Linked DNA regions of Homo sapiens. The protein of the gene in region 1 purifies or fractionates together with the protein of each later gene. This does not show direct contact. Each region holds a gene or a part of one and is shown on either strand. Other genes may lie near its edges.

What was found. The genes of interacting proteins can lie anywhere in the genome.
Region 2: the proteins of GCSH (region 1) and SUCLG1 fractionate together in Homo sapiens (co-fractionation; one large-scale study listed by BioGRID). This does not show direct contact.
Region 3: the proteins of GCSH (region 1) and ACSF2 fractionate together in Homo sapiens (co-fractionation; one large-scale study listed by BioGRID). This does not show direct contact.
Region 4: the proteins of GCSH (region 1) and GSTO1 fractionate together in Homo sapiens (co-fractionation; one large-scale study listed by BioGRID). This does not show direct contact.

Annotation. Positions count from the first base shown.
Region 1 is NC_000016.10:81,089,896-81,093,395, forward strand, and holds part of GCSH (glycine cleavage system H protein, mitochondrial precursor), read right to left. Parts: exon of another isoform or gene 1,196-3,500; coding exon of another isoform or gene 1,102-1,195; intron 786-1,101; coding exon 706-785; intron 1-705. UniProt on the Homo sapiens protein: The glycine cleavage system catalyzes the degradation of glycine. The H protein (GCSH) shuttles the methylamine group of glycine from the P protein (GLDC) to the T protein (GCST).
Region 2 is NC_000002.12:84,431,781-84,435,280, reverse strand, and holds part of SUCLG1 (succinate--CoA ligase [ADP/GDP-forming] subunit alpha, mitochondrial precursor), read left to right. Parts: intron 1-1,845; coding exon 1,846-1,929; intron 1,930-3,500. UniProt on the Homo sapiens protein: Succinyl-CoA synthetase functions in the citric acid cycle (TCA), coupling the hydrolysis of succinyl-CoA to the synthesis of either ATP or GTP and thus represents the only step of substrate-level phosphorylation in the TCA.
Region 3 is NC_000017.11:50,432,718-50,436,217, reverse strand, and holds part of ACSF2 (medium-chain acyl-CoA ligase ACSF2, mitochondrial isoform 2 precursor), read right to left. Parts: intron 1-3,500. UniProt on the Homo sapiens protein: Acyl-CoA synthases catalyze the initial reaction in fatty acid metabolism, by forming a thioester with CoA. Has some preference toward medium-chain substrates. Plays a role in adipocyte differentiation.
Region 4 is NC_000010.11:104,261,392-104,264,891, reverse strand, and holds part of GSTO1 (glutathione S-transferase omega-1), read right to left. Parts: intron 1,914-3,500; coding exon 1,815-1,913; intron 1-1,814. UniProt on the Homo sapiens protein: Exhibits glutathione-dependent thiol transferase and dehydroascorbate reductase activities. Has S-(phenacyl)glutathione reductase activity. Also has glutathione S-transferase activity.

The DNA of each region.
Region 1 (3,500 bases):
AATGGTGGCAACACCCTGCTCTTCTTTTTCCTCTTTCCTTAATTGCCCAGTACAAAACACACACATTTCCTTCTTGAATAGGACATGTTTCCTACTTTCAGTGTTAAGCTTGCAACATCTCTTAAAACACCACATAATGCCCTAACTAAATTATGTTTTACTTAATTCAACTCTGGTTGGTTTTCTTACTTTCTTTCTTTCTTTTTTTTTTTGGAGATGGAGTCTCACTCTGTCACCCAGGCTAGAGTGTAGTGGTGCAATCTCGGCTTACTGCAACTTCTGCCTCCCAGGTTCAAGTGATTCTTCTGTCTCAGCCTCCTGACGAGCTGGGATTACAGGTGTGCACCACCAAGACCAGCTAATTTTTGTATTTTGCAGTGACATGATCATGGTTCACTGCAGCCTCAACCTCCTGGGCTCCAGCGACCCTCCTGCCTTAGCCTCCTGAGTAGCTGGGACCACAGGCATGAGCAACCATGCCAGGCTAATTTTTTTTTTTAACTTTTGGTAGAGACGGGGTCTCACTTTGTTGACCAGGCTGGTCTTGAACTCCTGGCCTCAAGCAATCCTCCTGCCTCAGCCTCCCAAAGTGTTGGGATTACAGGCATGAGCCACCTCACGCAGCCTAAACACTTTTAAAAAGGTAGAGATAAAGCAAATCATGCAAGAGCACACTGGGACAAATATTTCAATATAATCCAATACCTGTGCAAAATTGCTGATTCCCACTGTTCCAATGCCATTTTCTGTTGTTACCCATTCGTGTTTCTCTGTGAATTTACGCACTAAAACAGAAGACCAACATTTCAGAAAAGCAGTAGCATTACTTCTTAAGAAGCACTTTTCATTACCATTGCTTTCAAAAGACTTTCCCAGAATTTCTGTTTGACCTGTTGACACTACCTTTAAATAGTGCATGGCTCAGGAAAGAATGAAGATCATGTATAGAGATGACGCATTTAAACAGCAGTACCATTTAAGCAAAGATGGCTTCATCTGAACACCTTGTGCATCTTTTGGAGATTGGATTATCTGCTTTAACATTACTTAGCCTAAATCACAAAAGAAAATTTTGGAGCATATTTCAAATGTATACTTAACTATTACTGGTCTGTCTTGCAGAAAAAAAAATCTGTGCCTCTGAAGACAAATTTGGGGTGATGAGGTTTAGGGAGGCAGCATAAAGATGGCTCATATAAGAAATGATTTAACCTAAAAAAAAAAATAACAGTAATAATCAGGTGCCTCTTTAGGCAGAGTTGACCTAAGAGAGCTTCAGTGCAGCTTGGGTTACAAAGTAAAATTTTACAGGAATGAAACTGACCTCCTGGAACAACTATAATTTGACTAAGTTCTTAAAATTCTACTTTAATCAAATTCAAGCCTAACCTTGAAGATAGCACTACCATCGCTTAAAGAAGAAAATTAAGATCACAACTCAACAGTCTTCTCAGAGCTAAGCCATGGGTTGGTGGAGAATCAAGCTCTGCTCACCACTCACTGGACAGGTTCAGCCCTCGACTTACTGAGCACTTCTCTAAAGATACGGTCAAACGATTCAGGGAATCCTGAAAGAAGGACCGGCCAATGTTCAAGAGTAAAAAGAGTTATTTAGGATATAAAGTTAAAAGTACTTGCCTTAGAGAATAATATTTTTTAAAAAGCATATGCTATATTAAATACAGTTCATATTCTGACACCAAGTATTTTTCTAAAAACAATGCAACGTAAGTTCATAGAAAAATGGTTAACTCAAATACTGTTTTAAAGAGGCCTCACTGGCTCATTTTACCCCTTACCCAAAGGATAGTAGTACTTAAAACAGCATTCAATTGCTTTGGTTACAGCTCTGATACGCAGCACAACGTAAGTAGAGTGTATAATTATTATTTTTATTTTTTATTTTTGTAGAGATGGGGGGGTCTATGTTGTCCAGACTGGTCTCAAATTCCTGAGCTCATGATCCTCCCACCTCAACCTCTCACAGTGCTGGGATAATAGTGTGTGAGCCACCGTGCCTAGCCAAGTATATAATTCAATATTGCTTTCTTTTCCCCTTAATTATGAAACTTTCTAAAGTTCATACCCCTTCAGTGGAAGAAGTCAAAAAATGTGTCACTAAGAAATTTATTTTGCTTCATTCCACTTCAAAGAACTGAATGTTTCAGGTCACTCTGACGTTCAGGTAAGAAAGTTTAAGATGTGTACACTGTGTTTTGACTGAAAGACTCTCCCTACCATCTTTACTAACTACTTCCGGTCTAGATTCAGAAGTCCGTTCCTGCCCAAAGGCTTGTCTAACCAAGTCTAGGTTCTTAGGCCAGCCAACATGCTCTTACGGCACCCTGTACCACTATCCCCCAGCACACACACGGTGCTGAACATACTAGAGATCATCTGTCAGTCTCCCCAGGAAGTAGGCTGTGTACCCACCAAGAAACAGCAAGGTTTATCTTATTTTCATTTGTTTTCCCAATTTTAAATACAGTGCTTGCCACATAGCAAGCACTCAAAAGCTGAAGGAATGAAATAATTTTTTTTTTCCTTAAATTATCATGTCGCAGGCCAGGCACAGTGACTCATGCGTGTAATCCCAGCACTTTGGGAGGCCGAGGCGGGTGGATCACCTGAGGTCCGGGGTTTGAGACCAGCCTGGCCAGCATAGTGAAACCACATCTCTACTAAAAAAATACAAAAATTAGCCAGGTGTGGTGGCACACTCCTGTAATGCCAGCGACTTGGGAAGCTGAGGCATGAGAATTGCTTGAACCCAGGAGGCAGAGGTTGCAGTGAGCTGAGATCACGCCACTGCACTCCAGCCTAAGCAACAGAGCAAGACTCAGTCTCAAAAAAAACAAACAAAAAAAATCCCTGGGCGTGGTGGCTCATGCCTGTAATCTCAACACTTTGGGAGAAAAATATATATATTTTTCCCCTTAAATTATCATGTTGCAGGCCGGGCACAGTGGCTCATGCCTGCAATCCCAGCACTTTGGGAGGCCAAGGCAGGCGGATCACCTGACGTAAGGAGGTCAAGACCAGCCTGGCCAGCATGGTGAAACCAAGTCCCTACTAAAAATACAAAAATTAGCCAGGTGTAGTGGTACACGCCTATAATCCTAGCTACTTGGGAGGCTGAGGCAGGAGAATCACTTGAACCTGGGAGGCGGAGATTCCAGTGAGCCGAGATTGCACCATTGCCTGGGCGACTAGCGAAACTTCATCTCCAAAAAAAAAAAAAAAAAGTTGCAGAATGACGTGATTTTTTAAAGTTTATTAAGAGGATTCTGAGGAAAATAGATAGTATATAGTTATTTGTCTTTAACACTTAATTCTCTCACTCTGCTACAAATCGCCGGTTATATGCCAATTATGAGCAGTTTGAAGCTAAAACACCTTTTCAAAGTAAGCACTGGACAACTATAAACACCACCTGAGACTACCTTCTTTGACCTTGCCATCTTGCCTACCTGTGAAGATAATTTTAGGAGTAAGGCTGC
Region 2 (3,500 bases), on another chromosome or scaffold:
CAGGAAAGACCTCAAAGAGAAAGTAGCATTTAATGTGGACCTTGAAGGATGATTAGAAGTTTTGTCAGATGGTGGAGGTGAAACACTCCATCTTAAGCAGAACAAATATGAAAAGATAGGAGAGCATGAAATATCAATGAGGAATAACCCAGTTTCACTAGGTAGGGAAATAGTAAGAAACAAGTCTGGAGAGGGAAGCTGGGACTCTGCTGGGCTGGCGAGTTAGAGCAGAGTTCCACGTGAAGTGAGGCATCGTCGAGGATTTAGTTGTCACTGTCTAGTGAAATGCATCTAAAAGAGCAATCTGACAGTGTTCTGTAGGGTCTGCTTAGCAATGACTAAGTTACGTACACACCATTCTTTGAATTTGACTTTGAATTTGGTATGTAGAACCTGAAGTTATTGTGTGCCCAAATTCATAGTGAGAAGATGTGTTTATGCATAGGTCACACACTTAGTACGCATTAGTATACAATAATGGTGACATAGCACTTTGTTTAAGAGTGTAAACATGTAGCACGGAAGTTGAGGTAACTTATAGTTATGGTTTTTGTCTCAGGTTGACAAGAATTCTACCTGCCCTGGTAGGGTGATCATATTGTTAGAAAAGGGTCTTCTGAGTTCTTCAGAGTTGCTCCAAGGCAGGAGTTTAAGGAAAGTAAACCATGGACACCCTGGATTAATTTTTTTGTTTGTCTAAAGTATTACATAGATTGTGGCTTTGAATAAATTACCTTTCTGGAAGCTCAGCCAAGCATAGTAAACTACAAGAGAAGACATCTAACTGTCACTCCTCCCTGGCCCCCACTGGCTCTCCTCCCTCGGCGCACACCTAATCCAGATGTGAAATTAAGTGCTTTCACACAGGTCCATTTATAAAGGAAATTAGGTGGGAGACTTGATTCCAGAGGGATCTTGACCTTATTCCCCAGTTTTCTTTATATTGATTTTAAAGCCTATATATTGGTTGAAAATCATTGGGAAAATAGTTGTGGAGAAGATAGGTAGTATTTTAAAATGTGACTAATGCTAGTTTTGATGGTTTAATAGTTTGGGTACTGTATTATTCTGTTTTATATTGCTACAAAGGAATATCTGAGCCTGGATGATTTATAAGTAAAAGAGATTTGTTTGGCTTATGATTCTGCAGGCTATACATGCATGGTGCTAGCATCTGTTCAGCTTCTGGTGAGGCCTCAGGAATCTTTTACTCATGGCAGAAGGTGAAGGGGGAGTAGACGTGTCACATGGTGAGAGAGGGAATGAGAGAGGCCAGGATCTTTTCAAGAACCAGCTCTCATGTAAAGGAACAGAGTGAGAACTCACTCATTACCATGGAGAGGTCACTAAGCCATTCATGAAGGATCTATCCCCATGACCCAAACACCTCCCACCGGGCCCCACCTCCAACACTGGGCATCACATTTCAACCTGAGATTTGGAGGGGACAAATACCCAGACTACATAAGGTAGTATAAGTCTAATCTATTACATTCTGCCACTGTAGGTATGATTAGTACCTACCAAATTTATACTGATACTAGCTTCTTCATAAAGATTCTCAGAAGAGGTAATTTAAGTCTTTCTTGCATTGTTTTTATAGTCATAAAATAACCTTAACTAATAATATACTTTCTCCTTTGTCTAAATTAAAAAACCCCCCTGCTTGAATTTAAGCCTTTCCTTTTCATTTCATCGTTTGAAGATACTATTGATTTTGATGGCAAATCATGGAATGAATTTTATACCTATGTTAGTCACTCGAAGTGTTTGGTAATTTAGTTTACCATGTTTTAGTCTAACATAGAAACACAATCTAATATTTTTGAATTCTCTTTCGTTAAGGCATTGTGTCCAGATCTGGCACCCTGACTTATGAAGCAGTTCACCAAACAACGCAAGTTGGATTGGGGCAGTCTTTGTGCGTTGGTGAGGGACTTTTGCTAAAATCATTTTATTGGAGTGTGGTGTCTTCATTGGATGAGTATAATAATAATTATTGATTTTATTATTTGCAAAAGATTTTGATACTCTTATGAAAAGGATGTTACGATCTCAAATTTAATTTGCTTAAGTGTAAAGTTATTCTGTAGTTGTTTCAAGATTCATGGTCCAAGATTTCATTTCTAGGTTGAAGAACTAACATCTTGGAACACGTGGCTCCCGAAGCACCTTGGTGCCTGAAAACATCACTTGGTTTGATTGCTCTGAAGAAATGGTTCCTTATATTAGGACTTTTGTTATCATTGCCATTATGTTCATCAGTGCTTTATAGTTACTGAATTCTTTGCCATTCAGTGTCTCATTCTTGAGGGAAGCCTCTCAGGTGCCTCTGAGCTGGAAAATTGTACTGTTAGAGCCTTATTGGTGAGAAAGTCAAGGTTGAGGAAGGTTCATTTCCTCAGAACCTCTCTTTTTATCACACTATACTGCCTCCCATTTGAAAAAGTAAAAATTACAAATTTTTACATTTTAAAATAATTTCATTATTTGTTGCCAAAAGCCAAGGCAAATTCCTCCTTTTCATATTAATAAATATTCTTTCAAGTTCTTAGAATACCTGTTAATGTTTTAGAATTATCTTTACGAAAAAGTAACATATAGCTCTGGAGTGTTTTTATTAAGATTCAAATTCATAAATTAAATATTGAAAACATTAATTGAGCATTTGTACATGCAAAGCACAATATAAGTGGAAGATACTTTTTAGTGTGACAGAGAATAAGAAAAGGTTTGAAACAGGCTTACCGATTCCTTCTTTTCCAGCTTCAGTTTTGAATTTGTAAGTGGAGGATAATAATGCCTATCTCACAGAGAAGTTGAGAAAATTAGGAAATGACAGATCTAACGTGTGCCAAAGCATAGGACTTGACACACGGTTGGCACTTAATAAATGCCGGTTCTCTTCTTCCACTCCATTTTTCAGAGATGCAGTGAAAAGAAAGAAATCAATCCTGCCCTCAGTAAGTTTGTAATTTAAAAATAAAAAACGGCAGCCTGTCTGTAGGGAACATTTACTTTAACCCTGTCCATGAATTTGTTCTTAAATGTGGTGTGTAGTATGGCTCTGATATGCATGCTCTGTCATCATCCACTCTGGATCCAGAACACGAGCAGTCAGGGTACTCACTGTCACTCACTGGCACTTGTGTCTTAAAACTTGTGGGTGATTTATCTGCAGCATACTTCATCAAATAGTTTCTTTACTCAAAGAAATTTGTTAAATGTTTATTCTTTCCTCTGGTGTAACATCAGCATGCAACACAGATACACATTTTCTTAAAATGTTCATTTCTAAGGAGTTATCTGGGAATAATTTTGTGGGACAGAAGAGGCTTGATAAAGGAGCTAAAACAAAAAGAGGGTTGTCTTCGTTACAGCCCTAGAATATTCCTAGAATATCAGGAACCAACCACCATTTAGCATTTATATAATATTACCAACAGAAATAAATGTAGCATTTTGTGATTTTTTAAATATTAAATGCAAGAGCAATGATA
Region 3 (3,500 bases), on another chromosome or scaffold:
GCGGAGGTTGCAGTGAGCCGAGATCGCGCCACTGCACTCCAGCCTGGGCAACAGAGCGAGACTCCGTCTCGAAAAATAAAAAATAAAAAAAATAAAAAATAACAACAACAACAACAACAAAAATGAACTCTGACTAAGTCTCACATTCTATATAAGCAAAAATAAAATGAATCAGACTTAAGTGTAAAAAAAAATTATAAAATCTTCTGGATCTAGAGCTAGGCAAAAAGTTATTAGGCTTGACACCAAAAGCAAGATCCATTAAAAACAAACAAACAACAAAAAAAAACACTCACTGAGCGCTGGGTGCAGTGGCATGCACCTGTAATCCTAGCTACTTGGGAGGCTGAGGCAGGAGAATTGCTTGAACCGAGGAGTTGGAGACCAGCCTGGGCAACATAATGAGATCCCATCTAAAAAAAAAAACTCACTAAACTAGACTTTATAAACTAGACTTAATAAATTAGACTTTATAAAAAAATTTTTTTAAATTGCTATATGGGCTGGGCATAGTGGCTCACGTCTGTAAAGTAATCTTAGCACTTTGGGAGGCTGAGGTGGGAAAATCACTTGAGCACAGGAGTTGGAGACCAGCCTAGGCAACACAGTGCCATCCATCTCTATGAAAAAATTTTTTAAATTAGCTGGGCTTTGTGGCGTGTACCCATAGTCCTACGTACTTGGAAGGCTGAGGCAGGAGGATCACTTGAGCCCAGGAGGTTGAGGCTGCACTGAGCCGTGGTTGCACCACTGTGCTCCAGCCAGGGTGACAGAGTGAGGCCTTTCTCAAAAAATTAAAAAAAAAAAAGGATTAAAAAATTTTGCTCTGCAAAAGACCCTTTTAAGAGGATGAAAAAAAGCTACAAAGTGGGGAAAAACATTTGTAAGCCACATGTCTGACAAAGGAATAATACTAGAATACATACAGAACTCTGAAACATTGAGCTGTTTAATACGTAAAACTCACTTTTGTGAGTTTTTGTCAAGGTTAATGAGCTGCTCCTCCCAAAAGCACTCCTTGGCTTCTGAGCAAAAAAAGCCAGACACAGGCCAGGCACGGTGGCTCACGCCTGTAATCCCAGCACTTTGGGAGGCCGAGACGGGCAAATCACCTGAGGTCGGGAGTTTGAGACCAGCTTGACCAACATGGAGAAATCCCATCTCTACTAAAAATACAAAATAAGTCAGGCGTGGTGGCACATGCGGGTAATCCCAGCTACTTGGGAGGCTGAGGCAGGAGAATCGCATGAACCTGGGAGGCGGAGGTTGTGATGAGCCAAGATTGCGCCATTGCACTCCAGCCTGGGCAACAACAGTGAAACTCTGTCTCAAAATAAAAAAAAGAAAAAAAAAAGATCTGTGCAGTTTACTGTATGTAATTATATCATAAAGCCCCATGATCTTTCTACCACTCGACATAACCACCCTGAGGAGTATGTGACCTCTGAAAAATACCAACTACAAAGAACAAACTACAAACGACTACAAAGACTAGTAAGGACTACAGTAAAAAAAAAAAAAATTATTTTTTTGAGACGGAGTTTTGCTCTTTTGCCCAGGCTGGAATGAGGTGGTGCTATCTCGGATCACTGCAACCTCCACCCACTGGGTTCAAGAGATTCTCCTGCCTCAGCCTCCCGAGTAGCTGGGATTACAGGTGCATGCCACCATGCCCAGCTAATTTTGTATTTTTAGTAGAGATGGGTTTTCGTCATGTTGGCCAGGCTGGTCTTGAACTCCTGACCTCAGGTGATCCACCTGCCTCAGCCTCCCAAAGTGCTGGGATTGCAGGCATGAGCCACCGCACCCAGCCCAGTAAAGATTTTGAACAAGATACTCTATATTGGTGGAAGCTTCCATTCTCAGCATCTTGTTTTGTTATTATTATTATTATTATTTGAGACATGCTCTCACCCTGTCACTGAGGCTAGAGTGTGGTGGCATGATCACGGCTCACTGCAGCCTCGACTTCCTGGGCTCAAGCAATCCTCCTGCCTCAGTCCCCCAGGAAGCTGGAACCACAAGCACATGCCACCACACCCAACTAATTTGTAAAAAGTATTATCTGTAGAGATGGGGTCTCCCTATGTTGCCCAGGCTGGTCTCAAACTTCTGGGCTCAAGCGATCCTCCCACCTCAGCCTCCCAAAGTGCTGAGTTATAGGTGTGAGCCACTGTGCCTGGCCCATTTTCAGCATCTTGAATGGAACCACTGGTGTGTTTGTAAGTATGTACAGAAAATACATAAGAAGTGATAATTTGGGTTTAGAAAACTCTCTCAAGAAGACATAGAAGGGCCAGTGCGGTGGGTCACACCTGTAATCCCAGCACTTTGGGAGGCTGAGTTGGGAGGATCGCTTGAGCCCAGCAGTTTGAGACCACCTGGGGCAACAAAGTGGAAATCTGTCTCTACCAAAACAAAATACAAAAAATTTAGCAAGGCATGGTGGTACACACCTGTAATCCCAGCTATTTGGGAGGCAGAGGTGGGCACATCACCTGAGACTGGGAGGTCAAGGCTACAGTGAGCCGTGATCACGCCACTGCACTCCATCCCAGGTGACAGAGTAGCCTGAAATACTTGGAGTCAGGAGGCATCCATGCTGCAGGTTTTCTTTTGGAATAGCTGGACAGAGACCCCAGGAGAAGAGTGCCTAGGAATCAGGGATGGGGGCTGAGTCAAGACACTTGTCCCTTGATAGGATTACTAAAATACATACAAGGCTAGATATTAGTTTTCTAGGAAGAAAACCTTTGAGGTAGCCAGGTGCACATGGTGGTTTGTGCTTGTAATCCCAGCTACTCAGGAGGCTGAGGAAGTAGGATTGTTTGAGTCCAGTAATCCCAGCATTTTGGAAGGCCAAGGCAGGCGGATCACGAGGTCAGGAGTTTGAGACCAGCCTGGCCAACATAGTGAAACCCCATCTCCACTAAAAATACAAAAAATTAGCTGGGCGTGGTGGCAGGTGTCTGTAATCCCAGCTACTTGGGAGGCTGAGGCAGGAGAATTGCTGAACCCAGGAGGCGGAGGTTACAGTGAGCCCAGATCGCGCCACTGTACTCCAGCCTGGTGATAGTGCGAGACTCCGTCTCAAAAAAAAAAAAAAGAAAAAGAAAAACATATTTAAGTGTGTGTGTGCGTGTGTGTGTATAAAACAAAACTTGATGCTTCTTTTTGCTCAGGGGACTACAGAATTACAGAATGTCAGGTTAGGAAGCTGCATACTCAGGGTTCATAAGAGACCAAGTGAAATTTCACACACGTATGAAGGCTGCATACTTCAAATCACAGCCTTATTGGGTTTAGGGATCAGGCTCAAACTCCAGCCTCTTTAGGAATCACAGAATCTTCTCCCAAAGGTAGAGCACATCTTGTCCAAACAGCCTATTTTACAAACAAACTAAGGTCTGCGGAGGTTCAGTAACTTGCCTAAAGCCACACTAAGTTAGGACTGGTAGGACTGGGATTTGCTTTCCCGTCAACTAACTCCCAAATGGAGG
Region 4 (3,500 bases), on another chromosome or scaffold:
CTTTTGGATGCAGGTATTCGATAAATTATATGAGATATTCAACACTTTATAAATATTTTATGTTTGATGGTTTTATGTTTGATGATTTTGCCTAATTGCAGGCTAATGGAAGTTTTCTGAGCACATTTAAAGCAGGCTAGGCTAAGCTATGATGCTCTGTAGGTTGGGTTTATTAAATGCATTTTCCACTTATGATATTTTCAGCTTACGGTGGGTTTATTGGATGTAACCCCATTGTAAGTGCAAAAGCATTTGTACTTAAAATATACTGGAAATAGACTGGATTAACTGCTAAACAGATGACAATCATTTGAAAACAAAACACAAATTGTATGTTTCTGAAATTTTAAGAAGGCGAATTGGTTACAGGGTTTGCCAAAGGGGGTGATTGAGAATATTATCTGGCTATTTAAACCACCAAACTAATTTGCCCTTTATAAATAACCTCCATAGTTTTTTTTCAATGCATAATATGCATTTTAGATTGCTTATATCTACCTACTGTGTTCTGTCTACTACTAAACTAATTATCTGAAGAATATGGACTGCATCTTACTTTCCAGCTCCCACACTGTTCAGCAGAAAAATATAAAAGTACCAACACTGATTCAAGAAGAAATATAAAACCAAAAAACCAATTACCATTAAAGAAATCAAACTAGTAATGAAAAATCTACCCCTGTTAAAGACACCAGGCTCAAATGTTTTAAAGAAACCGCTAGTCCCTACCAAATGGTTTCAGAGATTAGAAAAACAGGTTAGTTACCCAACTCATTTTATGAGGTCAGAATATCCTTGAAACCAAAAGCCAATAATGATACTATAAGAGTAGAAAATTTATAGGCCAATCTCATTTATGAACACACATACAAAAATCATTCATTAGCTAATTCTACAGTACATATAAAAATCCATAGAGAACAAGTAGGTTTTATCTTAGGAATGCTAGGATGGTTAAACATTAAAAAAAAAAAAATTTGTCAATAGCACCATATTCACCAGATTAAGAGGAAAAAATTCTATGAACATTTCAATAGATGTAACAGATGCAGAAAAACCATTCAATAAAATTCAACATTTATGACTTTTTTAAAAATTAGCAAACTAGTAATAGAAGAGAACTTTATAATGAAAAAAAGGTTTCTGAAAAACCTACAGCAAACATCATGCTTACTGATAAAATGTTAAAATGCATTCCCATGAAAGACAGGAACTATGTCTTCTGTCAGTAAAAACTTCAGGCTTAGCATGAATGAAATATTTCAAGGCCAAGAGACAGACTCCAAGGCCCAAATGTCAGCTGTCCCCAAAAGAAGGTAAAATACATCTGGGCTTCCCTCAAGTGTCTGTACTGTTCATTGCAAACTTTTTCTGGTGGGAAATATTTAGTATGTAATACTAAGTGGACACAGGAAAAAAAGCAGGACACAGAATGATATCTATGCTCTGATTAGAGCTATATTAATTTTTTTTAAATATATGGACAAGGACTGCAAACAAGCATGGAAAACTGGATACATAAAAACTTGTGGAAACGTGGGTACAATTTCCTTTTTCCTTGTTATTTTAACATTAGCAGAATATTTTAAAAGCAAGCCCATGACAAAGTCTGTTTAGGTGTTTTGATTTATATCTTAAGCAGGACAGCTTTCTGCTTTATAACAGCAGTCTGCTGTAAACAAAAATGTTTAGGGGAATTTTCCTAATTACCTTAAAGTGACTTGGAAAGTGGGAATATAAAGAAAAGAATAGGAGGAAAAGGAGGGTAGATATAGTTATCGTTTACTCTGATGATAGCTAGGAGAAATAATTACCTCCTCTAGCTTGGTAAATTCTTTACGAAATTCTTCTTTTAGGCCAGCATAGTCTTCTTTATTTTGGCTTCTAATAAAGCTTCCTACCAAGGATGGCACCTAGACAGAGAATAATTTCTTAGTTTATCAGTTTATGGCTAACTGTATCGGCCCCCTCACATAAAAATATGGTAGAACCCTTACAGTCCTGGTGTCAAGGTGTTCTAGAAACACCAAGGGTGCATCAAGTTCCTGCGCTCACAGAGGTAATGGACTGGTCTTAGGAACAGTTTTGTGGCCTAAAATGCTGGCTTGGTCAGGATTTTATAAATTACAAATAACAGAAGCTACCCTGGCACGTTTAAGAAACAACTTTCTTTCTTTTTTGAAATGGAGTCATGCTCTATCACCCAGGCTGGAATGCAGTGGCACGATCTCAGCTCACTGCAACCTCCACTGCCCGGGCTCAAGCAATTCTCCTGTCTCCGCCTCCTTAGTAGCTGAGATTATGGGCGTGCGCCACCACGCCAGGCTAATTTTTGTATTTTTAGTAGAGATGGGGATTCACCATATTGGCCAGGCTGGTCTGAAAACTCCTGACCTCAGGTGATCCATCTGCCTCAGCCTCCCAAAGTGCTGGGATTACAGGCTTGAGCCACCACGCCCGGCCAACACAACTTTCTTTAAAGGAGACTGAGTGGCTCATAGAATTATTGGGAGGCGGAACAAACAGGCTTGGAATTAAGACAGAACATCCCAAATTCATGCTGAGAAATGGCCTAATGGGAAGCACTCACTGCTGCCAGTCCAAGCTGAGCACCAGATGCTTCAGTTTGTGAGGCTGCCAGAAAGTAGAGTCTGAGATAACTGCTAACACCACTGGCACTGATGCCATTTCTACTCTGGAATTTTATCTTGTAACCCACACTGCTGAAACCCAGAAGCTCTGCCGCTGCTCTCACCAGGAAAACCAGTGGAGAGCTGAATATCTTAAGCAGATATCCCACCAAGCCTGTTTCCTTACCTTGCTCGTTTCTGATTTGAACTCTATGTGTGTGTCTGACAGGAAGAGCCTAGGTCACAAAACTTGGCCCCAACTGCAAAGAGCTAGGGAAGAAAATTTTTCTGATTTCTTTGTTGGGGAGGACACCAGGAGACTGTTCAAAAGGGACCGACTACCTAAAGACTTGATGGGTGTAGCATCAGATGCTTTAATGCTCGTGATGGTGTTTATGTGTTTTAATACTTTGGTCTTTGGTATCATTTTATTGCAAGACGCAGAAGTCCACTCATCCTAGTTTAAGTAAACAGGCACTTGTAAAAATATAGAATCCCATGAAATCCCATCCACATCAGTTCAGCCTGCCTTCACTGGGACTGAAGGCTTTCAGGCAGCCCTTTCATCCACATTTCCACCTGGGTCTGCCTGGTCTTTCGTCTGTTTTTCCTCACATTTCTGCTCCATATTACTTTGCATACTTCAGTCCCTTTGCAATGTTTTTAATTCTTGCTCCTCTAAAAATTTATTTCTTAAGTGGCTTTGGTTTTTCTAGCCTCTAATTAACATTATTTGAGCCCCAACGCTTAGTTGTCTTTACTGTCCTAACCTTTACTGTCTTAGTTCTGTGTCTCATTTCCAAGTTCCCAGGAGAGAAGATAACTGGCCCAGGTGTGTGGGGTGGGGTACATTTCTGTTCTGATGGGCTG